4 linked regions of the Homo sapiens genome follow. The protein of the gene in region 4 interacts with the protein of the main gene of each other region in a pairwise test. Each region holds a gene or a part of one and is shown on either strand. Other genes may lie near its edges.

Region 1 (8,100 bases), on a different chromosome or scaffold from region 4:
ACACTCCTAGCTAACATCTACACTATACAGTCCCTGCAGCCCTGATCCTCTCCCCTAATATGCTACAGCTGGTGGAATCATATCACAGAAGCTGTTTCCTGTAAATGCTCTCTATCATCCAAGCATTTCAACTTTGAGCCGTCATTTACAGTTCCTCTTATCACAATTAACAACAATCTATACATGGTAATCTCTAAAATACCACATAGCTGCTCCTTATACACTGGCTCGTTTCAGCCTTTTTTTTTTTTTTTTTTTTTGAGACAGAGTCTTGTTTTGTCGCCCAGGCTGGAGTGCAGTGGCGCAATCTCAGCTCACTGCAAGCTCCACCTCCTGGGTTCACGCCATTCTCCTGCCTCAGCCTCCCGAGTAGGTGGGACTACAGGTGCCCGCCACAGCGCCCAGCTAATTTTTTTTGTTATTTTTAGTAGAGGCGGGGTTTCACCGTGTTAGCCAGGATGGTTTCGATCTCCTGACCTCGTGATCTGCCTGCCTCAGCCTCCTAAAGTGCTGGGATTACAGGCGTGAGCCACCGCACCTGGCCCCAAATTTCTCTTCTTAAATGGGACTACTGGACACAAGACTGGGCCTTGAGAGACAGAGAGAAATATCACCAGGCATTCTGCTATGTGTTCTACTCTAAGTAAAAGCAGTCATTTCTATTTAACAGCAATGACACACAATTATTCTCTTAAAAAAGATGGTCACTTAACAATATGCATACGTTCCCTTATGACAGTTCCTATTATGCCATTGGCACAACCCCAATTTGTGATTCATATAACCTGTAGTCAAATTACTTCCTATCTAGGCCATTTTTTACAATTCACTACTAAAAACTGAAAACATGCATTCCACTACTTGTGTTAGGAAAACTTGAACTTCTGAACAAAGATACGATCCGAAAATATCTATTAAATTCTCAGCGTTAATGGCCCTTCATGACCCAGATGAAAATTTTATAAGTAGGTTCCAATAATATGATGCACACTTTGGTGAAAATTTTATGTTAAGAAGTTTTCTGAAGAAAAAATAAAAACTCTTCTGCCAAATAACTATTCTGAAACCTCCACAACAATATCGAGAAGATAGAGTCCAGGCAGATTTCAACGTGGAGTTATAAATACCAGGCTCTTGCCTAACAAACTGCTTTGCAGTGCTTATCCCACATTGCTGATAAAATACCCAACAGCCTTGGTTATTGGAAGAGAAAAGCTTTAAAAATCTACATCTCAGTAAATTCCTTCCACTGATCCTGAATTTCACGGACTAGCAACTGTTTCCAGATTATCTAGACTACCACCTCTGCATCAATAGTTGGCCCCTGAGGGAGTCTCAGGGCCCTCTGAAAATCTGATGAAAGCCAGGGACCTTCTTTCCAGGGAAGTGCAAAGTTCACCAGCCTATTTCTAAATGCCAAAAGAACACTACTCTATACTTTGTAGCAAATGAAAGGAGAAAGGTGATAACAATCTCAAACTATGTGACTAAAAATCAAACTTTCCATTTGCTCATTTTGTTAGGAAAAACAGGCCTTTACAGATTCCAAACCAAAGACGTTGGGGCAGTGAATTAGCTTGAAAACAGCTCTGGTCAAATGCATGGATTCTCCCACCAAGAACTCTCTTCTGAAACTCCATATGGTGGATAGTTCTTGCCTTTCAGTATTCAGCTCAAGTGTCACCCTCTTGGAAAAGATTACTTTCCTGACCACCTGATTACTTTTCCTCTTGGAAAAGATTACTTTCCTGACCATGGAAAGCAGTCCTCAAGCCCTCTTTATCACATCTTGCTGTTTTATTTTCAAAATAGTATTTATCAGTATTCCAAAATACCTCACCTATTTTCTTAATTAATTATTTTGTCTCCTCTATTCGAGTATAAGCTCCATAGGGGTAAGGACCATGTCCGTCTTGTTCCCCACTGAATTCTCAGTACCTGGTATGCAGTGGGCACTTGATAAATATTTGTTAAATGATTAAAACTGAAAGATAGGATAGTGATTTTGCTATCAATTATCAAGCCTTTAACTATTAGTTAGAATTCTCCCTCTTTCCATAATCTGAGGGTCCATTCAATCAGCAAATATTTATCGAGCACCTACTGTGCGCCAGGCACTGTTGCAAGCGCAAGGGATACAGCAATGAATAAGTCAGACAAGTATCTTCGCGCTGAAGACCTTGTATTTTAGTGGACTGCTAGGAATAAGCAGATGTCTTGCTCACTACAATGCCTGGGAGATCCAGAACACCTTCTACAATCCTTCCTTGAGGGAAAGAGCTATGGGAGATCCCCAAACCAAAGGAAAACATTCTCCAACGGGCACTTCCAAAACAAGAATCAGGGGTTTCCCTAAACCAGTTGGACGGCTCTTCCTACATGCTCTGTTCACCTAGGGGAACCCCAATCAGCAGAGCTCAGGTAACGAAAAAACTTGGGGCAAGGGCTACTGTTTCTAGGACTTGGAGGTGGTGAGGGGAGGAACCAGGAAACAGGGCGACAAGGAATCGTGGCAAAAGCCCTGAGCTGGAACCCTGAGGAACAAGCTCTGGTTGTCACCAACTTGCTAGGTGACCTTGGGCCAGTCCCGAGCTGCCCGGGCAACACTTCCTCCGGGGGTATAATGAGGAGGAGGCCGGAAGGGTGGAATTCGGGATCGGGGGGAAGCGGAGGCCAGGAGGCCGGGCCAAGGCCGAGTAGGATAGGGCAACGGCCGACGTGCTGAGGCCAGCGCGGGGCAGGGCGGGAGCGGCTCACCCACCGAGCGCCACCTGGCAGGCCCTGCGCAGCTGGGAGTGCTGGGGCCGCTTCACCTCCTTGTCGGCTAGGATCTTCTCCAGGGCCCGGGACACGAACATGCTCTTGGTCTGGCTCTCCTGCATGGCCCCGGCCCGGCGGGGGCTGACGGCCCCGCGGGCGGGCGGCGTGAGCGAGATGGCGAGCTAGGCTGCGGGCCCGGCGTCCCGGCCGGCACCGGCCGCGTCCGTCCGCGCCGCCCCGTCAGGAAGCGACACCTCGGCCCCACGGCGCCGCCATGTTGGAGCGCGTCACGTGACCACGTGACTGGCGAGGCCGCTACGGCCGCCTAGCGTCCGTCGGCCCCGTGACCCCCAGCGGGGCGGAGCCTAAGGCTGGGGGCGGAGCGGAGTCAGGTGGGCGAGAGACAGAAGGCGAGGGTGGAGGGTGGAAGAAGAGAAGGTGGGGAGGGGAGTGGGCATGGGCGAAGGGTATAGGGGACGCGGGGGCTAAAGAAAGGCGAAAGCGGGGAGAGGTGGTGATGGAGATGAGAGGAGAGAAGCGCAAGGTAACGGGAGGTGAAGGGGAGCACGAGAATGGAGATGACGTGGGTAAGAGAGGAGATGAGGAAAGGAAGGGGAACGAGAGGATTGGCAAAAAAGAACGGTGACAAGGAGAGATGATAAAGGGGCAGGAGGAGAAGGCGAGTAGGAAAGAAAAGAGGTGAGGGAGCGAGGACTGGAAGCTGGTGAATGAATGAGAAGTGATCGGGAGTAAGGGGCGTCAGGAGGAAGGAGGAAGGGCGATGAGAAGGCGGCGGCGGAGGGGAAGGGGGGAGGCCCGGCGCGGCGGCTCACGCCTCTAATCCCAGCGCTTCCGGAGGCCAAGGCGGGAGCATCGCTTGAGCCCAGGAGTTCGAGACCAGCCTGGGCAACATAGGGAGACCCTTTCTCTACAAAATAAAAAGTAAAACAGCCGGGCCTGGTGGCGCTGCTTGTGGTCCCAGCTACTGGGGAGGCTGAGGTGGGAGGATCGCTTGAGCCTCGGAGGTTGAGGCCGCAGTGAGCTGTGATGGCACCACTGCACTCCAGCCTGGGCCACAGAAGGAGACCCTGTCTCAAAAAACAAACAAACAAAAAGGAGGTGAGTTAGTTATGGAGGAGATGAGGTGGTGTGGGAAGAGGTGAGAGGGAGGCACAGAGGTAAAAGAAAAAGGAGAAAGACAGGAGGGAGAGGGGAAGTGAAAAGGAAAGAGAGGTAGAAATGAGAGGAGGGGAAAGAGTAGGAGAAAGGGTGAAGGGAGAGGAGGTAGGAAGGGGAGCTGTCAGGAAGAACAGAAAAGAAAGAAAAAGATGAGAGTAACAAGTTAGGAAAACAGGAAAGAGATGGAAAAAGGAATGGTGTAGGAAGGAGGTGAAGGGGAAGGAGGTGAGGAAGAGTGGAAAGAACATGCTGGGAGAATAGGAAATGGAAGGGGTGGAGGGAGAGGGGAGGTGAAAGGAAGACAGAGAGGGAGAGAGAGAAGGTGTGTTTATGTCTATTCTCCACAAGCAGGGTTTCACCACAGCCACTGGCAAGATACACACATCCATATGACCCTCCTGTCACAGCAGCAGTGACCTTGCAGTTCAGTGAACTTCTGTTTATTGAGTGTCGCAGCTGTGCATAGTATACCAGGAAGCACTGACCTCTCTCTGTAGTTTATCCTGTTATAAACCTGTGAACCCTCACAGTGCAGTGAACTGGACCTGGGCTTTGGGAGTCAGGGGAAGAAACCCAGATGGCCAGTGTCACACAGCCTGCAAATGAGTGCTGGGGGACAGATACTCTGGCCCCAAGGCAGCTTCCACTCCATTCCACAATGATGCTATCACAGCAACCATTAGTGGTGTCCCCTGGGCCCCTTCCCCCAAGGGCAGCCATGGGCTTATGCAAAGACAGTTGTCTTCCTTGGAAACCTCAGAGGCACAGACATCCCAGGCAGGCATGCTCCAGTGCTCGGGTCTTAGCTCAGACGTCTCTGGGAAGCCTTCCCTGACCTGTCTCAAGTAGCCCCCTCTCTCCCTAGCTGATGTTTTCCACAGCACTTTCTGAGCTTTTGTACGTGTTGACTATTTGTTGTCTCACTAAAGCACGGTTGCAGAGGGGCAGGCCATATCCCCAGGGCCCGGTCTACAGTCACGTTGAATATTTCATGGCCTTAAATTCTGCAAGTTCCACTGCTTGTAATGCGATTTCGCAGTCACTCCCAGCAAGAGGTAGAGTTTGTTTCTCCACCAGCCTGAACCTAGACTAGCCTTGTGGCTGGTCTTGACCAATAGAATGTGACAGAAAAGAGGCTGCACAAGTCCCAGAGCATCAACAGCCCTGGCTCACTTCTTCCTTTACTGCCTGGGAATGCTGAATGACACTCAGAAGCAGCCCTGGGCAGGTCAGTGGCTCATGCCTGTAATTCCAACACTGGGAGGCTGAAGTAGGAGGATCACTTGAGCCCAGGAGTTCGAGACCAGCCTGGGCAACATATCAAGACCCTGATGCTACAAAAAATTTAAAAAATTATCCAGGAATAGTGATGCCTGCCTGTAGTCCCAGCTACTTGGAGGGCTGAGGTGGGAAGATTGCTTGAGCCCAGGAGGTGGAGGCTGTAGTGAGCCGTGACTGCCCCTCTGCCCTCCAGCCTGGGAGACAGAGCAAGACTCTGTCTCAAACAACAACAACAATAATAACAACAAAATGGTAGCAGCCCCAGAAGAAAGAGCACGTGGATAGGGAGCCCAGTCATTGCAGCTCTCCCAGCCGACCCACCAGCTGAATACAGCAGCACAAGTGACTAGTGAGACCAGCAGAAAAACTGCCCAGCTGAGCCACAGAATAGCAGAAAACAAAAAATCATTACTTTATGCCACTACATTCTGGGGTCTTGCTTGTTACACAGCAATAGATCACTGAGACACACCTCAATCCTTATGTGTTGAATGAATGAATGAATGAATGAAATTCTCTAGAGTACAGTGCAGTCTGCTGAGTAACATGTTTTGATCCCACCCCACTCCCCCCAACACACACACACAGCAAGGCCAGACTATGTCACTCCCCTGCCGAAAATCCAACAGAGGCTCCCTATTGCCCTTGGAATTGAGTCCAAGTTCAGTATCATACTGTGGCCAACAAGGTGTGATAGAGGCCCTGCCATTTTCTCTGAGCTCATCTCCTTCCTGCTTTTCTTCAGGACTCTGGCCACTCTGGGCTCCTTTTTGTTCCCATCAAGGGCTTGTCTTACATTTTTCTGTCCCTCTTAATCAGTGCTTCTCCATGAAGGCAGTACCACCCCCAGACGCATTTTGAAATTTTGTTGGGGGGATATTTCTGTTGTCGTAATAGAGGGAACAGGAATGCTAGATAACATCCTGCAGAGAGCTGAACAATCCTATGTAACAAACAATTCAATGTATGCCACATGGCCAGACACTCCTGGAGATGAAAAACTTATTGATAATGATCTGAGCCTAGAATCTAAATCTGCTTTACATATAAAATGTTTTTTGCTGTAGTTTTTTTGTTTGTTTGTTTGTTTGTTTTGAGATGGAGTCTCGCACTGTCGCCTAGGCTGAAGTGCAGTGGTGTGATCTCCACTCACTGCAACCTCTGCCTCCCAGGTTCAAGCGATTCTCCTGCCTCAGCCTCCTGAGTAGCTGGGATTACAGGCACCCGCCACCACGCCTGGCTAATTTTATTTGTATTTTTAGTAGAGACGAGGTTTCACTATGTTGGCCAGGCTGGTCTCCAACTCCTGACCTCAAGTGATCTGCCCGCCTTGGCCTCCCAAAGTGCTGGGATTACAGGCGTGAGCCACCATGCCCGGCCCTTGTGTAGATTTAATATCACCACATTTTCCAGAAATGCAAATATCATTGCAATTCAAGGGAAATATATATGTATATGTATATGTATATGTATATATACATATGTATTTTGAGACAAGGTTTCACTCCATCACCCAGGCTGGAGTGCAGTGGTGTGATCGAAGCATGCAACACCATGCCCAGCTAATTTGAAAAAATATTTTTGTAGAGATGGGGGTCTCCCTATGTTGTCCCTGCTGGTCTGGAACTTCTGGCTGAAGCGATCCTCCCACCTTTGCCTCCCAAAGTGCTGGGATTACAGATGTGTGCCACCATGCCTGGCTAATTTTACAATTTTTTTTTTTGAGGCAGAGTCTCACTCTGTTGCCCAGGCTGGAGTGCAGTGGTGTGATCATGGCTCACTGCAGCCTCCACCTCTTGGGCTCAAATGATCCTCCAAATTCAGCCTCCAGAGTAGCTGGGACTACAGGTGTGTGCCACCGTACCTGACTAATTGTTAAATATTTTTGTGGAGATAGGGTCTCCCTGTGTTGCCCAGGTTGGTCTCAAACTCCTGGTCTCAAGCGATCCTCCTACCTCCACCTTCCAAAGTGCTGGGATTACAGGAGTAAGCCAGCACACCTGGCCAGAAAAATGTATTTTGTCTGGAACTTTACCAAATATCATTTACCACTTCAAAGCCACATTGCTGTCATTTACACCAGCTATGGTATCTGATTTGCTGCTAGGGCACTCCAATCAGCCTGCACATATGGCTGTGGCAATTCCAGGGGATCCCACTTTTAGGTTCCAGCATCCGCCTGCTTCATTACACCTTCTAGTGTAATTGTATCTGAGCATTTATCTATTGAAATAAAATTTGCAAATTATACATTGCATTCCTTTTGTTTCACCTTCGTAGTCTTATTAAAACTGTGTGTGGGAAGATTTTATTACCTATGAATTTCATTTCAGAACAGCTAACAAAGGCCTTGCAGTTATAAAAGGGGGTGTGTAGTATCTGCTAGGGTTGGAAAGCACTGATGGCTGCCCCCTTCCCACCACTCTGCCCTCAACTCAATGTCACCCACAAGGTCACCAACCTCCCAGTTTTATCCCTCCTACCTCCACTACTTGCTTCCATATCATCTTTTGTTAGTTGCACTGAACTGAATTTTAAATGATGGTGTTTATTTATCTGTATATTAGTTATCTGTTGCTGCATGATAAATGACCTGACACTTAGCAGCTTAAAAGCAAACATTTCTTATCTCACAGTTTCTGTGGGTCAGGAATTTGGGAGCAGCATGGGTGTTTCTGGATCAGGATCTGTTGAGATTGCTGTTGAGCTGTCATCTGGGGCTGCAGTCAGATGAGGCTCAACTGGGGCTGGAGGATCAACTTCCAAAGAGGCTCCCTCTCATGGGACAGAGGCCTCAGTTCCACTCCTCTCGGTAGAGCTGCTTGCATGTGCTCATGCTGTGGTATCTCCTGTTTCCCAGAGTGAGTGACCCAAGAGAAA
Region 2 (7,297 bases), on a different chromosome or scaffold from region 4:
TTTTTTTTTTTTTTTTTTGGAGATGGAGTTTCCCTCTTATTGCCCAGGCTGGAGTGTAATGGTGCGATTCCGACTCAGCACAACCTCCGCCTGCTGGGTTCAAGCGATTCTCCTGCCTTAGCTTCCCGAGTAGCTGGGATTATAGGCATGTGCCACCACGCCTGGCTAATTTTGTATTTTTAGTAGAGACAGGGTTTCTCCATGTTGGTCAGGTTGGTCTCAAACTCCCGACCTCAGGTGATCTGTCCGCGTCCGCCTCCCAAAGTGCTGGGAGCATAGGTGTGAGCCACTGCGCCCAGCTTTATGTGGTTTTTTTTTTTTTTTTTTTTAAGGTGTACCAGTTTCTGATTTTTTGTTTTCATCTTCAAATAAAACTTAAAAATAGTACTTTATGTTTTACCAATTTAATGAATGCTTTTTTCAATTTGTTATTTGTTGAAATGTTGTTTTGGTTGTGATGTTGTATGGTTTTGAAATACTCATTTTTATGTTGTCAGTTTTTACCTTCATATTATGTTTGATATACAGGTTATATTTTAATTTTTGTTAATTTTATATTTAATCCTAACTCAAGACTCATAATTCACTAGCTTGTTAGAAAGGATAAATTATTTTTCCAGAATTTCGAAATGGCTAAAATAGTCATATTATCCTTTAATGTTAATGTTCTGTAATAGCTATCAAGATTGATTTAGAGCATTGTTATGAGAATGAAACAGAATTAGGCCTTGGTATTTTAAGTGAAAAGCTTTTTAATTTGGGCCATATTTTTGGACAGGAAACCATTTTTGGTGCCTATATGATGTATGATGTCAAGTTTTAAGAGTTTGCCATATGTCTGTTAAGATAATACAAGGCGTTTAACTAGGAAGAGTTGCCGTTTTTAGATAGTTTTTCCCCATTATCTGTAGGAACTATAAATAAAAGACAGTTAAAAAAACTTTTAGAACTTTTGCTTTTGTAAAAAACCAGAAGTCTTTCATCTGATGATGAGACATTTAAGTTGGCATTAGAAAATTTTGTAATACTTTATGTAACCAATTACAGATTTTTTTGGACACTGAGATTCTGCTTCTGTAGGTACTGTTTACCGACAGTAAAATATAAATTCTTAGATCTAGATATCAAAAATTATTTAAGTTGAGATTACTATTTTTGCACAGCAAATTCAACTTTGCAAAAATGAATTTGAAAGGAAAAACTTTAAGAAATTTCTTGTCAATTTGTAGATGTCAGATTCTCATTACAAAATTATTATAATATTCTAATTTTTAAAAATTAGGTTTATTTCACTCCTTATTGTCCCTCAGGGGGCGATAATGAGGGTAAAATGAGATAAATATAGATATACTTTCAAAAATGTTATACACACTCAAATTATAAATGAGTTGAGCACCGGGCACAGTGGCTCACACCTGTAATCCCAGCACTTTGGGAGGCCGAGGCGGGTGGATCACCTGAGGTCAGGAGTTCGAGACTAGCCTGACCAACATGGAGAAACCCCATCTCTACTAAAAATACAAAATTAGCCGGGTGTGGTGGTGCATGCCTGTAATCCCAGCTACTTGGGAGCAGAGGCAGGACAATCGCTTGAACCTGGGAGGCCGAGGTTGCAGTGAGCTAAGATCGCGCCATTGCACTCCAGCCTGGTCAACAAGAGCGAAACTCCATCTCAAAAAAAAAAAAAAAAAAAGCTGAACGTGGAGAAAGCCCAGCTATGAAAACCTAAATTTGCAAAACAAAATTAAGATTGTTTTTACATGAAGATTCATTTTATGAGAATATTCACTTCAGAGTTTCTGTGATGTGATTTTTTCATGGGTCTTAAATTATATATCTATTCCAGAAGATACAGTTTATGTACAACTTTTCAGGAGAACATATGTGAAGACAGCATACTTAAGATATAGCTGTTGTTCCACATACATACATTATAGGTCCTCGATAAATTATTAAAAGGTTGATTTTTTTAGAGCCCCTATTATGATAGGCATAATATCTTATATTACAGCAATAGACTTTTGCTTATTAGTGCAATTTGATAAACCATTGATAGTAGCTAAAATTTTTTCTTCCCTCTCTCTTCCAGTCTATATTATTTATTTTGTCAATCAGAGGATCCCAAAAGTTTTTGATTCACAAGTCTGACTTTTCATGAAAGTTGCACTTTGGCCAGAGGAATACCTCCAGTTCTATGTTCTATTTATTAAGCAGGCAGGGCCAAACAACTTAATGGATATTTGTCTTCACAGCCTACTATGTATTTCAAAGACAATAGTATGCATAAAGTAAAAGAAAAATAATGTTTTTATTTTATTCTTTACCGCAATTACTTACCACTGGGATGCGTGTGCCTATTAGAAACTGCACACAGCTTCTTAGATCTTGGAATTGAATACTGTCCCCCTCATTCCTGTACTTCATTGATTTTCATTCAGTACTTGGTTTTTTATCATAGCAACTACCAAAACCCAGCTTTGCGGAGATAATTATGTCATTGAAGGGAATGTAGTGTGATTTATTTGAAACCATGAGCAATCTTTTGAGGTATCCAACAGATGTATCTCCCTCTGAATTTTGCCTCAGAATTTTTTCAGGGCACCCTCATGAGTTTGCTACAGCATTCTGGGGTACTTTGATGCAGTTTTTGGGAATTGTGGCCATGTTGCCATAAGTATTTATTGAACACCTACTATGTGCCCTGCAATATGGACGTGATCTTTATCAAGAAAGACCTGGTCATTACTGTCTTCAAGCTTACAGTCTATAGGAGATACTGATATTAAACAAGTAAATAGAAATATGCTGAGTTTTGTGAAAGAAAATCACATTACAGGGGTACCTAATCCAGTTAGGGGGAGATACTATAAATGTGATTTTCTGGGTTCATAATGCATATGTTTCATAAATGTTAATATGTTGGTTGTTTCAGTCATTCCTTCTTAAAGTCACTTTTATAGAATACATTTAAATCTGAAAATTCTTATCTGTTAAATTGAAATTTATCTCATTAGGTTGATTAACTCACTGCTTGATTATTTGGTGTAAAGAGTAGTGAGAAATAGTTCATATGTAGTTTTCAAACAGTAGAGATTTTCACTTTTGTGAGTAATTAGAAAAATAAAACCGTATGAGACTTAGATTGTTTTTATTGTGTTGATTAGAGTATCAGTTACATTTAAATCTACGAACAGTTAGGCCTCTCAGTACTAGAACGTCTCTGAAAAATATAACTGATGAACAGAAGTATAAATTACGCTTTTGGAGGGGGATTAAAAAAGCGTAAGTTATATTCTGTAAAAATGTTAAAGAAATTATCACCTAGAGGAACTCTAAATCTTTGCATATTTCTTTTGTAGCAGCTGTGTTGAGAACAAAACACATCAATGTGAATTGCAGTACTGATAACTAGAAGGGCAAGTTTAAGTCACTTACCCAAGATATTTTAGTCCTGAGGATTCAGAGATGGAACTCAAAAGGAGTTGAACTCCATAAGAGCCTGGGTCCTAATACCTGCTCTATAGCTCTGGGATGTTTAAAAAGTGATCACACATATGAATTCTAAACAATATTTTAAACAGAAGTTTTCTCCTAATCACAGGTGTTCTTTAAAGAAATTTTCTTATACATTTTGGAAACTTCTACCAGCTCATTTGATCACAAATGGATGGTTATTCAGACACTGACGAGGATTTGTGCAGGTATTTTAAATTATCCTTTTTATTATCTCTTTCTTATTATTAGATATTTAAAAGGCCAAATGTACTCATATCCTAGATGTACTTTGTTGAAATTAATGTTATATTGTTACAGATGCTCAGAGTGTAGTGGATATTTATGTAAACTATGACTGTGACTTAAATGCAGCCAATATATTTGAAAGACTAGTAAATGATCTATCAAAAATTGCTCAAGGAAGGGGCAGTCAAGAACTTGGTATGAGTAATGTTCAGGTAAGAACTATAAAAACATTTTCAAATTTAAACTTTACCAGGAAAGAGTCATGTGTTTTCCTTAAAAGACCTTTAAAAAAAATTTTGTTTTTGAATTACTTTGTAGGAATTGAGCCTGAGGAAAAAAGGTTTAGAATGCTTAGTGTCGATTTTGAAGTGTATGGTTGAATGGAGTAAGGATCAGTATGTGAATCCCAACTCCCAGACAACTCTTGGTAAGGTGATATTTTGAGCTGTAATTCTTTGTCATTTTAAGTGAATAATACTTTGGAGGATAGTTGCAGCTGCTGTTAAACCAATTTCATGACATATTTATTCATTTAACTGATGAGGAAACATTCTCTGTGAGTTAAATGTCTAGCTTTAAAATTGTGAGATTTTTAACTTAGTTATCCAAACTATTTTTTTCTAAATCTTCTTAGAAATATTTTGATTATGTAAAATGAAGCATATTTATGCAACTTTCTTGTATTATAATTATAGAGGAAACATATAAAAGGCAGTATGTTTTAAGAAGGTTGAATTGTTCATCTGTGTTTGATGTTTACCCTCACTCAGAGAAAAACTCATAGCTGCAGGGCTACACTGGTATTATCGAAAACAATTCCTCATGAGGAGTGAGCTGAGAGCAGAAATCCAGTGGATACTCAGCACTGCAACTGCAAAAAGAACTCCTCCTAATGGTGCAGACTATACACGTACAAATTACAGTGTGTTTTAATATCAAAGTATGTTGTTTACTATGTTACCTAATAGTTATTTTGTATTAAATAGATATCTAAGCAACATTGAAACGCCTTGCCTTATTCAAGAATTTGTTTGCCCTTACACTTTTTTTTTTCTTTGATAGAATAATGTACTCTATCAATTTTTCTTCTTTCAGGTCAGGAAAAACCCTCAGAGCAAGAGATGAGTGAAATCAAACACCCTGAGACAATAAACAGATACGGAAGTTTAAATTCCCTGGAGTCAACATCATCATCAGGAATAGGCAGCTACAGTACACAGATGTCTGGCACTGATAATCCAGAACAATTTGAGGTCCTAAAGCAACAAAAAGAAATAATAGAACAAGGGATAGATTTGTAAGTGTCATAGCTTAAGGAGAAATGTTATTGAATATCTCTCTGCCAGTATAGTGCCACCCCTGCCGTGGGTTTATCACCTTATAATGAGTAAAATGGAGGATAGTTCTCATGGATCTAATTCACGAGGCTCCTATTCAGCCCCCCTTGTTCATTGCAGTCTAGCCCAACTAGATTCCTGTAATGCCCAACCACTCTTGTCATATAAATTAATTTGTCACCATATTATAAGTGCTGTTGATGGGTATCATCTGTGCAATTTTGCACTGTTTAGCTCATGACATCCCCCCATTATATTTTCTAATCATGTGACAACTCAAAACATTTAAAATATGAAACTTCTAATAGCTATCAGTACTCCTTTATAGGTCTTACATTTTTTCCAGCTGGCTTACAAATGTACTATTCTTGTTATTGATTTCATTTTTATATGTTGATGAGGTGATCACCTCTCTTCCAGCCTGGCTAGTGTACCGGATCCTAATCTTGTGAAGTCAGTTTTCCCACTAAGCTTTGTGATACCTGCCTGCTCCTGGACTATTTCCTTTGTGAATGTCACCATGCTGCCTTCCTTTCTCTTGTTGCCCATCTCTTTTTTTCAAAGAGATGCCATAAGGAAAAATGAAATTGTTTGCCGTCTCCATGAATCTAACTATTATAAACTTAAAAATTCCCCTGTGTGCTTACTTGGTTTGCTACTTCTGTAAAGCATTTCTTCCTGATACTTAAGCAGTGCCTTTTAGTGAATGTTCAGGTGTCTTTTTTCTCCAGTGTTAATATGAAAAACAGTTCAACAAAAATGTACACATATTCTATTTTAAAATTACAAAATCTTACCAAATTGCCTCAGGAAATAGCTGTCACTACTGCATTAATTCTAATTGTTCAGTCAATATTTATTAAAGTCTCATCTTTCCAGATATTATGCAAGATCCTGGGGAAACTAGATACATGGAAAAGCCCTTCCTTCTGAGAGGCTCTTGGTCTAGTGTGTGTAAACAAATATGCATATTGAAATTCTGCTGGTCACCCAGTAAACACATATTTGGTACTTGGGACTATTGCCAAGCACCATGAAGGCATTGGTCCTTGTATTCAAGATTGCATTCTAAACATGAGCAATTTTTAAAAATAGTACTGTGTAAATGTTTATAAAAGAGTGTCGTACAGAGTAAGTACTGCCAAGGTACTTATTTTGAAGTACTTGAGAAATGAGAAGGAGTAGTCAGAGGGCTTCGAAGTGGAAGTCTCCCAGTCCTTCTCTCAGCAGCTAGACTTGCTTTCTACTTAATACAGCCATTGATGAGAATGCTTTCATGGAACTGTATTCCTAGTATACTTGTCTACAACTGTTTCATGACACCAGTCTATCCTGTTTCTCTCCTACCTTTTTGACTATGCCGTCTCAGTCTTGTGGGCTGTTTTTTCTTTCTTCCTGCGTGCATCTTAGCATTGCCAGCGTTCTGTTCCTCAGCCCTTTTCCAACATCAGCCCCTTAGTTCTCCTACCCAAAACAAAAGACAAATAGAGAAGCCTGTTATTTTTGTATTTCTTATTTATGGTAGTAACCCCAGCATGCTACTAAATTTATAAGCTAAAATCCTGGGAGTTAGCTTAGATTTTCCCCTCAAAGGATTAGATTCTCGAATCTAATCTGTCACTAAGACTTGTTGATTATACTTCCTAATATCCCTGCAATCTGTACTCTTTTCTCGATCTCCCACCACTATTCTTGCAAATCAAATCATGATTATTTATTTCCTCAACTAGTATAATCTTTCAATTGGCTTACCTTTTTCTTTGGTTTTGTTCATTCTTCAGTCTTTTCCCATGCTTAACTAGAGTAACCTTTCTTGAATGAAAGTCTATTTTTTCCCTCTCTTAGAGAATAAAACCAAAGCTGCTTTGAAGGTATGATAATACCTTCATGATTTGGATCTGCTGGACTCTAAGCTTCATTTCCTGCCACTTTTCTGTCTCACCTCACTTTCCAACAATGCAGAACTATTTATTATATAATACTGTCTTGTGCTTTTGTGTTTTAGTATGGCTTCTTCCTCTCTTGCATGTTTTTTCTTATTGTTTATAAAAGATATAATTGTTCTTCAAAATAGTTCCAGAGTCACCTTTCCCAGGAAATATATTATGACCATCTAAGTTAGTTACTTCTACTGTGTTATTTTCTTACCTTGTGAATACATCTATTTGTCACAGTTTTAGTATTATAATTCTTTAAAATTGTGTTTCTTCCATTACAGT
Region 3 (7,336 bases), on a different chromosome or scaffold from region 4:
GAGATCATGCCACTGCATTTCAGCCTGAGCAACAGAGCAAGACTCCATCTCAAAAAAAAAAAAAAAAAAAAAAAGAAATAGACCTTAATGAATGGAGGAATGTTCTGTGTTCTTAAATAGGCAATTTAATAGTGAAACAAAACAAAAACCAGTTCTCTCCAAATTAATATAGACAGCACATTTCTAGTCAAAAATATCAGTCGGGGAGTAGGACTGAATGAAATGAAATTATTTTAAAGTTTTACATTGTAAAATTCAGTCTAACAATAGCTGAGAGATTGATTTCAGAAATACTAAAACTTACTACAAAGCTGCTGCAATTAAAAAACAAAAAAAGTGATAATTAGCACAGTAATGAAACAGTGGAACCAGAATAGAGAGTCTAGCAAAAGATCTCAGTATATTTCAGACTTAGTAATTTGTTAAAGTTAGTACAGATATTTTATCTGAAACCTTAGGGCCAGAAGCCTCAGAATTAATTTTTCAGCTTCAGAAAACCAATATGCAAGGCTGGGGGCAGTGGCTCACACCTGCAATCCCAGCACTTTGGGAGGCTTAGGTGGGATTGCTTGAGCCCAGGAGTTCCTGACCATAGTGAGATCTCGTCTCTACAAAAAATAAAAAATTAGCCAAGCATGGTGGTGAGTGCCTATAGTCCCAGCTACTCAAGAGGCTAGCATGGGAAGATCACTTGAGCCCAGGAGTTTGAGGCTGCAGTGAGCCGTGATCACACAATGGCAGTGCAGCCTGGGCAACAGAGTGAGACTCCTATCTCTAAAATAAAATAAAAAGAAAGACAATATGGTATTAGCACTAACCTCTCCAACAGGATCTGGGGAAAGCGCCTTGTAGTTGAGTCACAAATAATTCTTCACATGACTTACATATAAATGAAAAATGTAATGTCAGTTCACATTTAGCCACCAAATGAATTTTGGGGGAAGACTTGTTTTCTAGAGCCTTTTGGATTTCCAGTTTATAGATAAGGGATGGTAGACCTATATGCCAATTTGGTAGGGAAATAAATGGTGTGTTTTGTACATTTCTGGAAAAGAAAATTTTGGACCCTCTACCTCATAACATATACAGATTGAGTTCATCCGTCATCTGAAAATCCGAAATGCTCCGAAATCCAAAACCTTTTTCTTTAAGAAAAAAGAATTGAGTCTTGCCATGTTGTGCAGGATGGAGTGCAGTGGCTGGTCGCAAGTGAAATCATTGCACACTATAGCCTTGAACTCCTGAACTTGAGCAATCCTCCTGCATCAGCCTCATGAGAGTAGCTGAGACTACAGGCACGAGACACTGTGCCCAGTAAAATCTGACTTTTTCAGCACAGACATGACAAAGTAAATGCTCATTGAAGCATTTCAGATTTTGGGTTTTTGGAGTAGGGATGCTCAACTGGTAAGTATAATGCAAATCAAAATCTGAAAGACTTCTGGTCATAAGCACTTTGAATAAGGGATACTCAATCTGTATCAAATTCTAGAAAATTTGGCTGGGCGTGGTGGCTCACGCCTGTAATCACAGCACTTTGGGAAGCCGAGATGGGTGGAGGTCCTGAGCTCAGGAGCTCAAGACCAGTCTGGGCAACATAGGAAAACCCTGTATCTACTAAAAATACAAAAAAGTAGCTGGGTGTGGTGGTGCGTGCCCGTAGTCCTAGCTACTCAGGAGGCTGAGGCATGAGAATTGCCTAAACCTGGGAGGCGGAGGTTGCAGTGAACTGAGAGCCCCTGCACTCCAGCCTGGGCGACAGAGCGAGACTGTCTTAAAAAAAAAAAAAAAAAATTTAAATGTGAAAAATGAAAACCAAGATCAGAAAATAGTTAGAAAATTATAAACTGTGGGCGGGTGTTCCAGTGTGCTTACCAGAGCACTCACTCGCCGGTGGGCAGGGAAATGCCGTGGGAGGCAGCAGCACAGATTCTTCTGTCTTTTATCCACAGCAAAAATACCCAACAGTGACAACATCCAGTGCTGATGGGCAGGCAGGAGGACCAGGTCATTGTTTTAACACAGGTGGAAGAAGCATGACTTGCAAATGTTCTGCAGTTAATTGGGCACTATCACTTTGAAACCAAACCTGGTTAGAATGAAAAGCACCAGCATGGAAGTGTACAAGTTTATTCTAGTGTTGCTGGGTTATTGTGGAGAAGATCTGGAAGCAACATAAATGTGCCTCACTTGGGAGAATTTATGGTGTGGTTATCTGGGCATCTAGAACCAGGAGGATAAACTGTTGGCAAGTGAGAGTCACTGGGGGAACGGTCTATAGTAGTATCCTAATTGTGTATCTTTAGTTTATTGTGAGCATGTATGATGTCTGTTAATATTTTCCTCCAGTAGTAGAGAAAACGTGCTAAGGAAAAAAAAAAATGAAGATGGAGAGAGTAGAAACAGCAAGTGAGAAGGCTTTCTGAAACATGTAAATGGAGTGGGAAGGACTCAATGGGCTCTCCCACCCCACCAAAAATATCCTTCTTTTACCTTATGGTTTTTATAATGATCAAAGTGAGATTTGCCTGTACTCCCACCATGAGATGGCCCAGCATATTGATGGAAATCCTTCCAGACAAAATGGCTCTGGCATGCTCTGCAGACAGTACTATATTATACACCTTTCTTATGCCAGTGCAGAGATGAGCCCGATTTGAAGGGCTGCATGATGTTCTTTTGAATGTACGATTTATTTAACCTCTTCTGCACTGAGGAACGTTTAGGTGTTTTCCCATTTTTCACCACTACAATCAGTGTGCACGCATGTTTCCAGTTCTTAAATTTAGGATACGTTCTGGGAAGGGATTAATGAGACAGATTTTTACTTTTCATACATTGTGTCAAACTGCTTTCCAAAAAATACGGAAACAGTTGATCCTCCCACCAGCAGAGAAGACTCTCTTCACCCTTGCATGACTGGGAATAATTCTTCATTCTTGGAATTCTGTGGGTTAAAAAAGACGTTTCATTAAATATCTGTTCCTGTTTTTATATCTTCCCCGTTGGCCCCAAAGTGCTCCTTGCCTATTAGCCTAGTTGGCACCTTGTTACAGGTTGCACCCACCTTTGGCTCTTAGTTTCTTAATTGTTCACTGCTTATAGCTTTTTTGTAAGCAAATCAGATTTCTGTAATACAGCCGTAAAGTTAGAGATATATAGATCTGTATTTTTATTTACCTACAGTAAGTGTGGTGTGGAAGGAGAGGGAATTTGAACAAAGATCAGATAGGTTGTGGTTCCATGCTTGTGGAGTGGCCCTCCGTTGGTGGGGCTGGAAGTGCGTGGGTGCAGGGGCGGGGTGGGGTCCCTCTAAGCTGGCAGGGTCGGGGCAGCAACTTGTAGGGCACTCAGAGCAGCCTCTCCAGCTCCTTCTGCCCTGCCCGCAGCTCATGATGGAGCAGTCCAAGAAGTCCTCCCTCATGGTGGCCCGCAGTATTCTCAACAACAAGCTCATCAGCAAGAAGCTGGAGCGCTACCTGAAGGTGAGGCACTGGTCCGGGCCTGCCCTGTCCCCAGCTTAGTCCCCGCCTGTGCTCCCTCCCTTCAGTGTCCGCGCCCCTCCCCACAGGGCGAGAACCCTTTCACCGACAGCCCCGAGGAGGAGAAGGAGCAGGAGGAGGCTGAGGGCGGTGCCCTGGACGAGGGGGCGCAGGGCGAAGCGGCAGGGATCTCGGAGGGCGCAGAGGGCGTGCCGGCGCAGCCTCCCGTGCCCCCAGAGCCAGCCCCCGGGGCCGTGTCGCCGCCACCGCCGCCGCCCCCAGAGGAGGAGGAGGAGGGCGCCGTGCCCTTGCTGGGAGGGGCGCTGCAACGCCAGATCCGCGGCATCCCGGGCCTCGACGTGGAGGACGACGAGGAGGGCGGCGGGGGCGCCCCGTGACCCGAGCTCGGGGCGGGCGGAGCCCGCGTGGCCGAAGCTGGAAACCAAACCTAATAAAGTTTTCCCATCCCACCTCCGGGTTTCTCTGTTACTGTGCCGCGCGGGCGGGGCGGGGTGGGCAGAGGGGCGGGGTGCGCATGCGCGCGGGCCGGGCCGTCGGGCACCGCGGTGGGACCACAACTCCCATTAGGCCACGGAGCTGGATCGTAGCAGCCCGAAAGGCCAGCTGGGACGGCGAGGGCGGGCCCTCGTGAAGACCAGCCAATGGGGGCGCGCGGAAGTAGTGACGTGTGCGCCTGGTCTTCCAGTAGTCGATGGCGGAGGTGCGCTGAACGCATGCGTGCTGTGGTCGCCTAGTAAACGGGGCTGCTGGTGGGCCGCGTCGAAGACATGGACCAGGGCTACGGAGGTTTGTGTTGGCTGCTGGGTGCGGAGCGGGGAGGGAAGGCTCTGTGCGGGCGACGCAGCCGCTGCGCAGACTGCCGCCGGCCGGGCCTTCGTCCCGAGCGTGGTTGCCCCAGCTGGGCCCTCCGGAGAGGCGGCCAGGGCGCGCGCGCGCCGCTCATTGGGCTTTGGCGCCGTCGCTCCCGGGGCTCTGCGTGCGGATTGGCCGCCAGGCCCCGAGGAGGCGGGCGGGACTCGGGGTTGGGGCAGACGCCGCGGTGGGCTTCGTGGGGGCGTCTTAGACAGTGTGGGCCGTTTTTGCCCCTCACCTTCGGCGGAGTCCTTCCGGCCCCCAGCGACCCCGGGGTTTGCACTCCCGGCTTCCTCTTCCGAAGACGCCACAAAATGGCGGCGCTAGGGGGGCGGAGCTACAGCGTGGGGTTGTGAGGTCGGACCCGGGGAGCTGGGTCTGGGGCCGCGGGCGGACCGCGGGGGCCGCCTCTCTCCCGACCTGCCCTAGGCCCGCGGGGCCGTGTAGGGTCTCCGCTGGGCTCACGTGGCCCAGGGCGCCTGTCCCGGAAGCCGTCGGGCTGCGCGGGGTCGGGCCTTTAGTCCCCGGTGCAGCGCGGTGGGGCCGAGTGCTGCCGGCGCGAGAGTCAGCCTCGCCGGGCTCCAGCTCTGTACCCGGCGCGTGCTGGCTTGGGACAGGATGGTGAGGGGCAGATGCTGAGTGTTCGTATAAAGCTGGAAACCTGATGTGCCCTGGGGCTGGTGACATTGGCAGTTCTCCTTTAGGCAGTCTGTTGTGGTGGCCTGGAGGGGCCGAGGGGCTGTGCAGGAGGGAACGTGTCCTTTCCCCACTAGGATTTAGCGCTTGGCCTGCAGTAGGGCCGATCTTCTCGAGCTGCCTGCTCCCTGCTTCTGGAATCAGAGCCTTTTGGGAGCAAAGTTTGCCCACAGGGGATAGTTGGGACATGCTGGGTGGAGCTCGACTGGTTGTAGAGAAGCTAGTGGTCTGATCCTGGCTGCAGGAGCTCGAGAAGTTGTCGATCTTGAGAAGTGGCAGGGCAAAAGTATCCCAGCACCAGAAATTGCAGAGAGAGGTTTCGGTCCTGAGGCGGCAGCGTGCGCGGTGTGCTTTGGTGTCTTCCGGGTCCTAGCGAAGGCTCAGCCTGGCTCTCCTGGTCTTCCGCAGCCTGGGTAGATTTCACCATTCTTTCCCTTCTTTCCCATCAGATCTTTTCTGCAGGTATTGTATTCCTTCTTTTCATTCTTAGTTTGGAGAGGTTTTTTTTACCCCCTCTTCCTACCTGCCGAAAACCTTTCAGACACACTGGAGATAGTTAAGCTTCCCTGATTTCTTGTGTTTCCGGGAGCGTTTTAAGGTTAATAGTGCGTGCCACTTACACTAGAGCTTCACAGAGAAGCAGTCTCTCGAGGTTGGTTACTTGCTGTTGGAATCTGCAGTCTGCCTTTCTGCTGCACGGATGCGAATTTAGAAGGTTTTGCGGTATGACGGAGGGGAAGGCGTAGCATAGCAGAGGGCAAAACTCAGCAGTATGACTGGGTCAAGTCTCGTAACCCATGAGCCTAGCTCCCTTGTCTCTGAATGGCATTCCGGACAACAGGGTTTGCTGGGTGCTTGCGGTGTATCGGCACGCACTAGGCACTTAGCCGGGGGCGGGGGAGTTGTTCTGGTGAGGGAGACATGGATATGTTCCTGCCTCATCAAAGTGAAGTCATTTAACAGGCATGGTGGCCACCCGCGCGCAGCTCAGTGCTGGGCCCCAGGGACACAGAAATAAAGAGAACACAGTTCCCATTCTCCTTCCTGGAGGGACCAGACAGATGCCATAGTGGGCGGGGGGTGTGGAGGGGTGAAGAGTGCTGTCTGATGCCTTAGGGCCAGGCGAAGGCTCTGGGACTTAAAGGTCCAGGGGATCCGTGGAGGCCTTAAAAGTGGCAGGAAGGGCCTGGCGCGGTGACTCACGCCTGTAATCCCAGCACTTTGGGAGGCCGAGGCTGGCGGATCACGAGGTCAGGAGATCGAGACCATCCTGGCTAACATGGTGAAACCCCGTCTCTACTAAAAACACAAAAAATTAGGCGGGCGTGGTGGCAGGCGCCTGTAGTCCCAGCTACTCGGGAGGCTGAGGCAGGAGAATGGCGTGAACCCAGGAGGCGGAGCTTGCAGTGAGCCGAGATCGCGGCACTGCGCTCTAACCTGGGCAACAGAGCAAGACCCCGCCTCAAAAAAACAAAAAGTGGCAGGAAGTGCAGCTTAGAAAGATGCAATTTATGTCACTAAATTCCCATGCTTGTTTTCAGTTACGAAGTACTTGTGATGGCACTCTGAACTGGTTTCCTAGCTGTGTGGTGGGTGGGGGAACGTGTCCTCATGCTGAGTGGATTGTCTTGTGTTAGCCTCAGTTGTGGATGAAATCTTGGAGAGGTGAGGTCCTTGGCCAAGGTCCCTCTGCAGGGCGGAGCTGACTTCCAAGCCCACTTCCCACCCTTCTTTTTCTGCTTTGATCTCAGCCAGGTGGAATGCGATGACGCCATTAGCCAGTTGTGTGATGGCTTTTTTTTGGTGGGGTGGGGGGGAGTCTTCCTTCTTCTAAGGCTGGCACTGAACTGTAAGGAGATCCCTTTAGGAGTACCCCCAAAAGGACCCGTTCTCTGGTGTGACAAATAGAATTTTAACTCACGGGGTCTTCTTGCAGGCTACGGGGCGTGGAGTGCTGGACCTGCCAACACCCAGGGTAAGTGGGCTCTGCTTTGCGGGTGAGGCGTGGGCTTCCCCTAACTCAAGGCCCTAGCATGGCAGAGCTGAACTTGGGTCAAGGGAGAGTAGTAGCCCAGGGGTCAGCAAACTTTGTGTAAAAGATCAGATAGTGAATATCTTTGTGGCTTTATGGGCTCCACAGTCTCTGTAGCAGGAAAGCAGTCATAAATGTGTGAAAGAGTGGATGGGACAATGCCAGTAGTTACTTACAGACAATACAATTTGAAGTTCCTAATTTTTGCGTGTTAGTGAATACTCTATTTTGGCAAAATATTTTTGTTATTCTG
Region 4 (7,120 bases):
CTCTGTCACCCAGGAATGCCTGGCCTCAAGTGATCCTTCTGCCTTAGCTTCCCCAAGTGTTGACGTTACAGGCGTGACCCACTGTGCCCAGCCTCACAAATTTAATTTACATATATATATTTTTTCGAGACAAGGTCTCTGTCGCCCAGACTGGAGTGCAGTGGTGCAGTCATGTCTCAGTGCAGTCTTAATCTCCCAGGTTCAAGCAATTCTCCCACCTCAGGCACCCAAGTAGCTGAGACTACAGGCACGCACCACCATGTCCGGCTGATTTTTAATTTTTTTTTTTTTTTTTTTTTGAGACGGAGTCTTGCTCTGTCACCCAGGCTGGAGTGCAGTGGTGCGATCTCTGCTCACTGCAAGCTCCGCCTCCCGGGTTCACACCATTCTCCTGCCTCAGCCTCCCAAGTAGCTGGGACTACAGGTGCCTGCCACCATGCCCGGCTAATTTTTTTTGTATTTTTAGTAGAGACGGGGTTTCACCATGTTAGCCAGGATGGTCTCAATCTCTTGACCTCATGATCTGCCTGCCTCGGCCTACCAAAGTGCTGGGATTATAGGCGTGAGCCATCATGCCTGGCCAATTTTTTTTTTTTTTTGTAGAGTTGGGGTGTTGCCCAGGTTGATCTCAAACTCCTGGGCTCAAGCAATCCTCCTGTCTTGGCCTCTCAAAGTGCTGGAATTTCAGGAATGAGCCACTTTGGCCTAAATTTTTACAGCTTATTTCCAAGATGATTTGAAATAGTTTATAACATTAAAACACTATGAAAGGATGGCTAAAGATGATAAATCATTTGGAAGCTGAAGCATTTTAGCTATTTTGAGCGCTATATCAACCTCTAAAAATCCTGGCTGCGAAGGCAAAAAGGGGAGCATGATTGGGTATAGAGTTCTTGTCTGATTACAAGGAAGTGCATTTCATCTATAGAACAGCACAGGAAACTTTGTATTTACAGTATCTTCTGCAACTATCAACCTTTCAAGTACCAGTGACAAATGAGAAGCTGAAAGAAATGGGGTGGGGGAATAAGAGGAGGAGAGAGTAGAGTATTAATATTCATGTCTTATAAAATGAGGATTTGGCCAGGTGTGGTGGCTCACACCTGTAATCCCAGAACTTTGGGAGGCTGAGGTGGGTGGATCACCTGAGGCTGGGAGTTCGAGACTAGCCTGACCAACACAGAGAAACCCCGTCTCTACTAAAAATACAAAATTAGCCGGGCATGGTGGCACATGCCTGTTATCCCAGCTACTAGAGAGGCTGAGGCAGGAGAATCGCTTGAACCTGGGAGGCGGGGGTTGTGGTGAGCCAAGATTATGCCATTGCACTCCAGCCTGGGCAACAAGAGCAAAACTCTATCTCAAAAAAAAAAACAAAAAAAAAAAACCAAATGAATTTCTCAAAAAATAGTGATTTTTTCATACTGTATATTATTTTGGTAAGTTATTAAAACTCTAAAAGAACAAAAGGGAAGTATGTAAGTTGGTTTACAACAGGACTTAACTTGGGGTCTAGATATCTATCACTGTTTTTTTGTTTGTTTGTTTTGTTTTTTTGTTTTTGAGACAGAGTCTTGCTCCATCGCCCAGGCTGGAGTGCAGTGGCACGATCTCGGCTCACTGCAAGCTCCGCCTCCTGGGTTGACGCCATTCTCCTGCCTCAGCCTCCTGAGTAGCTGGGACTACAGCCGCCCGCCACCACGCCTGGCTCATTTTTTGTATTTTTTAGTAGAGACGGGGTTTCACTGTGTTAGCCAGGATGGTCTTGATCTCCTGACTTCGTGATCTGCCCGCCTTGGCCTCCCAAAGTGCTGGGATTACAGGTGTGAGCCACTGCGCCCAGCCACATTTTTTTTGTGTGTGTTTACTTTTTTTGCTTTTATTAGATTTTTCAAAGGGTTCCATGCACAAAAAGGCCAACCACTGATTTAGAGTTTTTTATCTAAGTAGTAAATTCTAGGAGGAATTTGTTCCATAGATGAAGAGCAAGGCAGTGCTCATATGAGTGATTAGATATGAAACCACTCAAGTATATCTTATTTTAATGTTGATTTGAGCATGTTGACTACTGGTAAAGTTTTTGGTTGGTGGTTATTTAGCAAAACAAACTTAATTTTTAAGACCATTTTTGAATTCAGAGCTTCTTCCGGTAATTACCATAGTCCTGTTGATTCTTTCCTAAATTCTCGAATTTCTTTCTTCTCACTGTTCTCTCACTCCCATCACTCTACTGCAGGTTGCTGTCTTTTTAAACTGGATTACCACATCAGCCTTTTAACTGTTCTTCCTGTCTTTATCCTTGTCCCACTCCAGCTGGTCCACATAGCAGTTAAGAGTGGATCCTGTCACTCCCTTCCTTTAAACTGTTTAATTATGTGCCAACCAAATTTGCATGACTCTCCCTAATCTGGCCATGACCACCTTTCCAGCTTCCTTTCCTGCCAAATTACATCTCCAGCCATACTTGAATTTTCAGTTCCTCAATACATTGTTTTCTTGCTCCTGGGCCTTCCCATTTTATCTGAAACACTCAACCCCTAGGTATCAGGTCTTTGCCTTCCTTTAGGAAGCCTTCCCTGATGTCCTAGGTTTGCTTAGGTGTTCTTCCAGTGTGCTACTGCAACCCATTATCCAGTATTCCTGCTTGATACCCTCTGTCTAGTTCCTTGCATATCTTTTATGCTTGACTGTAAATTTGTTGAGAACAGGGACCTTGTCTGTCTTGTTCAGCATTGTATAGTCTTTGCAATGTGCTCAGCGTATAGTTGGCACCTAATATTTACTGGGTAATGGAACATAATTTCAGCCATTCAAATTTAATACGTCAATTGTTGCTTTTTCTGCTTTTTGATTTGCAGTGTTGGTAGCCTTATATGAAGAACCAGAGAAACCTAACAGTGCTTTGGAGTATCCTTTCAAGTCAGAAAAAGGCTTTATTTTGAAACTCTTATTTTTTTAGATAGATAATAACCTTTAAAATACTTCTGAATATTGAGAAAGTTACTTTTTTTTTTTTTTTTTTGAGACGGAGTCTTGTACTGTCACCTGGTGGGGAATGCAGTGGCGCAATCTTGGCTTACTGCAACCTCCGCCTCCTGGCTTCAAGCGATTCTCCTGCCTCACGTCTCCCAAGTAGCTGGGATTACAGGTGCCCACCATCACACCCAGCTAATTTTTTTTATTTTTAGTAGAGACGGGGTTTCACTATGTTCATCACGTTGGTCTCAAACTCCTGACCTCGTGATGTGCCCACCTCAGCCTCCCAAAGTGCTGGGATTACAGGCGTGAGCAACCGCACCTGGCCAAGAAAGTTAGTTTCACTTGAGTTTTTGGATGGTGATCTCTGGGTAGATATTGGTGGTAAAGTGGGTGACTCTGGTCAGGGATATTGATACTACTCTGTGCTATTTCATTAGTTTCATTCATGTCTAAGAAGTAAGTTCTTAACATTGATAATAGTTTTTTAAAGCATCACTTAGGAGCTGCTACTCCAGAAAATCCAGAAATAGAGCTGCTTCGCCTAGAACTGGCCGAAATGAAAGAGAAGTATGAAGCTATTGTAGAAGAAAATAAAAAACTGAAAGCAAAGGTAAATTTTTAAAAAGAATTCATATTCAAATAATTTTACCTGTAATAATTGTATGATGAAAACCTCACTGAAATGGACAGGAGGGGAGGGAGGTGGGTGAATATCAATTTGAATTAATTACAATGTAAGGCCAAAGTTATGCCCTGTCAAGAAAACCACAAGACGGGCCTGGCACGGTGGCTTACGCCTGTAATCCCAGCACTTTGGGAGGCCGAGGTGGGTAGATCACGAGGTCAAGAGTTCGAGACCAGCCTGGTCAACATGGTGAAACCCTGTCTCTACTAAGAATACAAAAATTAGCCGGGCATGGTGGCATGTGCCCATAATCCCAGCTACTCGGGAGGCTGAGGCAGGAGAATCGCTTGAACCCGGCAGATGGAAGTTCCAGTGAGCCAAGATCGTGCCACTGTGCTCCAGCCTGGGTGACAGAACAAGACTTCATCTAGGGGGGTTAAAAAAAAAAAAAGAAAACCGCAAGACATACTGGAAATAGGACAAGCAAAGAAGCAAAGTGTGGTCAAGAAGAGGTTCTGGCTGGGTGCGGTGGCTCACGCCTATAATCCCAGCACTTTGGGAGGCTGAGGTGGGCAGATCACCTGCGGTCAGGTGTTCCAGATCAGCCTGGCCAGCATGGAGAAACCCCGTCTCTACTGAAAATACAAAATTAGCCGGGCTTGGTGGTGCATGCCTGTAATCTCAGCTACTTGGGAGGCTGAGGCAGGAGAATTGCTTGAACCCGGGAGGTGGAAGTTGCAGTGAGCCGAGACTGTGCCACTGCACTCCAGCCTGGGCAACAAGAATGAAACTCTGTCTCAAAAAAAAAAAAAAAAAAAAAGAGGTTCTTAGGAACCTGTATTACTAAAAGGATGAGAATATTGGTTAATGTTCTTTATAAGTAAATGGTCAGTTCTGAGGTTCTTAAGCAGTTGATTTTAAGTAGGCCAATATGGGGCGACTGCTTTGTAAATGGCACTTCTTAGAATTTGTATGGTTCATAGTTTGCAAGGCCATATGTAGCGGCCCTCTGTAAATTTGTTAGGACTTAATTTTATCTAGTGCTAAAGTTTTTTCTTTCTTTTTTTGAGACAGGTTCTCTGTTACCCAGGCTTGTGTGCAGTGGTGCAGTCATGTCTCACTGCAGCCTTGACTTCCCAGGCTCAAGTAATCCCCCCACCTCTGCCTCCTGAGTAGCTGGGACTGCAGGCATTTGCCACCATGCTCGGCTAATTTTTAAACTTTTTGTAGAAATGGGGTCCCATTATGTTGCCCTGGCTGGTCTCAAACTCATGACTCAAACGTTCCTCCTGGCCTGGCCTCCCGAAGTGTTGGGATTATAGGCATGAGCCACCTCACCCAGCCAGTTTTTTCTTTTTTCAAAGTCCTGTGAGAATTTTCATGAACTTCAAATTAGTCAACTCTTAAGTCTTTCAGGTCTTACCACATTCTTAATCACATAATGTATTTTACATTACTCTAAGTATTTCTCATAATATATTTTATCTTCTCAACAACTTTGTGAGATAAGTGAAACAAGTACACAAGCCACTTTATAGGTGAGGAAACGAAAGCACAGTGAAGTCTAATAAGCTTCTCAACTCCAACAGGTAGTTGGCAGAACCCTAATGTTAGCCTAGTGTTCTTGCAAGGAACCACACTTAGCATAAAAGAAAATGCAGTTATTTTAAATTATCCAAGATTCCACAATGTGTAGTGCTAGTTAACTCTTTGGAACCTTTTAACTCAAAGACATTAGTAGTTGTTTATTGGCTGGTTAAGTTAAGACATGTCACTTAACTCTTTATCTACTTTTCAGTGGGTATTTTCAGTAAACTTTTGCTGGAGAGGAAGAAAGTTCCTTATAAGCAAATGAATCTTTGGGAAGATATAGTTTATTGCATATCAAGTATTTGAACAGTGCAGTCATGAACTGGAATGAAATTTTAGTTTCAAAGCAATTTTAAAGGTTTATATAAAAAGGGCTTTCATTAGATTTGATTGTATTAAATCTTAAATCACTGAATGATTTAAAATGGATAGTTATAGAAACTGATATTAATACAATTTACTGACAGTAACTAAGTTGAATATAACAGTTACCTTGTTTTACTATTTTTTACTCAATTTAGAATAAAATTCACCTAAATTCCTCTGTCTTTGCCCCATAGCTTGCTCAGTATGAACCACCTCAGGAGGAGAAGCGTGCTGAATAGGATTCTTCTCAGTTTGAAAGACAATGAAAAATGGTTTTGTATGACTTGAATAGTTTGTATAGTATATAATCTTTTCTGAACAGATGCTATAGAACTCTTTTAATATGTTTAATTCACCTATCACACTCTGTTAAAAACACATAGAATCATCAATAAAAACTCAATATAACTTTCTTTGGGTCTTAAAGCAGGAGAATCCAAAGTAAATCCTGAACAAAACCTAAACACAGCCATCTAACTCATTACCTTAAAAGACATTCTGTTTATTAGTCTGATTAGGAATGATGGCACTGGTTGTATTTTAGCCAAGACAGTTTAGCATGGAGCTATTCCTTGGTGCAGTTCAGGATATGAACACAGGTACAGTCATTCTTTGAAGGTGACACTGTTCTGTATATTCCCTATAGGCAGCTGGAGAGATCTGTGTGACACAAGATGCTTTTGTACGGGTTCCCATGAATCTTCTGCTCTTGTTTGTGTGACATGGAACAAATAACTTCTTTGCCACCACTTTGCCTTAGATAACTGTGTGTGTGTGTGCCAGTTTGAACTCTGACACCACATTTTCCTTCTATGCAATCATGCCTGTCTGATAATCTTGCATTGCTTTCCTCTGAGCTTTAGTGGGTCCTAGTTGCACACTGGCCTTTCTGTGCTGTTTTTCAATTTGCCTAATAATAGCAGTTACCCTGATTGTAATTTATGTAACTTTAAACAGGATCACACTGTACCCCCTGCCTGCCTTATTTGCTTACTGAGCACAGGACAGAGGCAATATACAACTCTGGGTTCACACACAAGCTGAGATGAGAAGAGGAATGAGCCATATATTGGGGAAAATCATAGTTTGTAGGTATAATTATATAGTGCTTTTCTCCCTCAAAGTATTTTTCTAGCCTTGAATTCATTTTATCTTCATTATCCCTGTGAAGTAGGTGGGACAAGTATAAGGGGAAGAGGGGTGCTGAATTTTTAGGCCAAAGACTGATATTAATACAAATCACTCACTAACTGTAGAGCCTTGGGCATTATCAGTGAACTACTCTGAGATTTACTGTCTTCATCTGTTTAATGAGTAGAATGTCCGTGATGCCTACCTCACAGGGTTGTTGTGAGGGTCAAATGAGAATGTATGTGAAAGATTTGTAAATGGTAAAGCACTATATTCTTGTTTGTTAGTCCTTTTTCCTTTCTTTGGGTAGACCTACAGTCAGATGTTTTGTTTTATGGATCACTTATTTTCCTTACTGGTAGACTGTCGTTTTATAGACATATTCCTATTTCATATATTCTCTCCCTGTTGTTAGAGAACCTATCTTTG

What was found.
Region 1: the proteins of MYCBP (region 4) and ARFGEF2 interact in binary tests that used the Homo sapiens proteins (3 or more experiments, as listed by UniProt).
Region 2: the proteins of MYCBP (region 4) and ARFGEF1 interact in binary tests that used the Homo sapiens proteins (3 or more experiments, as listed by UniProt).
Region 3: the proteins of MYCBP (region 4) and AKAP8 interact in binary tests that used the Homo sapiens proteins (3 or more experiments, as listed by UniProt).

Annotation. Positions count from the first base shown.
Region 1 is NC_000020.11:48,916,672-48,924,771, reverse strand, and holds the start of ARFGEF2 (brefeldin A-inhibited guanine nucleotide-exchange protein 2), read right to left. Parts: upstream 3,062-8,100; 5' UTR 2,883-3,061; coding exon 2,762-2,882; intron 1-2,761. UniProt on the Homo sapiens protein: Promotes guanine-nucleotide exchange on ARF1 and ARF3 and to a lower extent on ARF5 and ARF6. Promotes the activation of ARF1/ARF5/ARF6 through replacement of GDP with GTP. Involved in the regulation of Golgi vesicular transport.
Region 2 is NC_000008.11:67,263,747-67,271,043, reverse strand, and holds part of ARFGEF1 (brefeldin A-inhibited guanine nucleotide-exchange protein 1), read left to right. Parts: intron 1-3,601; coding exon 3,602-3,701; intron 3,702-3,813; coding exon 3,814-3,953; intron 3,954-4,059; coding exon 4,060-4,168; intron 4,169-4,836; coding exon 4,837-5,038; intron 5,039-7,297. UniProt on the Homo sapiens protein: Promotes guanine-nucleotide exchange on ARF1 and ARF3. Promotes the activation of ARF1/ARF3 through replacement of GDP with GTP. Involved in vesicular trafficking.
Region 3 is NC_000019.10:15,376,666-15,384,001, reverse strand, and holds the start of AKAP8 (A-kinase anchor protein 8), read left to right. Parts: upstream 1-4,214; 5' UTR 4,215-4,270; coding exon 4,271-4,289; intron 4,290-6,987; coding exon 6,988-7,026; intron 7,027-7,336. Other genes in the region: AKAP8L (A-kinase anchor protein 8-like), read left to right, coding at 3,390-3,485, 3,572-3,880. UniProt on the Homo sapiens protein: Anchoring protein that mediates the subcellular compartmentation of cAMP-dependent protein kinase (PKA type II).
Region 4 is NC_000001.11:38,863,349-38,870,468, reverse strand, and holds part of MYCBP (C-Myc-binding protein), read left to right. Parts: intron 1-2,858; coding exon 2,859-2,907; intron 2,908-3,459; coding exon 3,460-3,589; intron 3,590-5,754; coding exon 5,755-5,799; 3' UTR 5,800-7,120. UniProt on the Homo sapiens protein: May control the transcriptional activity of MYC. Stimulates the activation of E box-dependent transcription by MYC.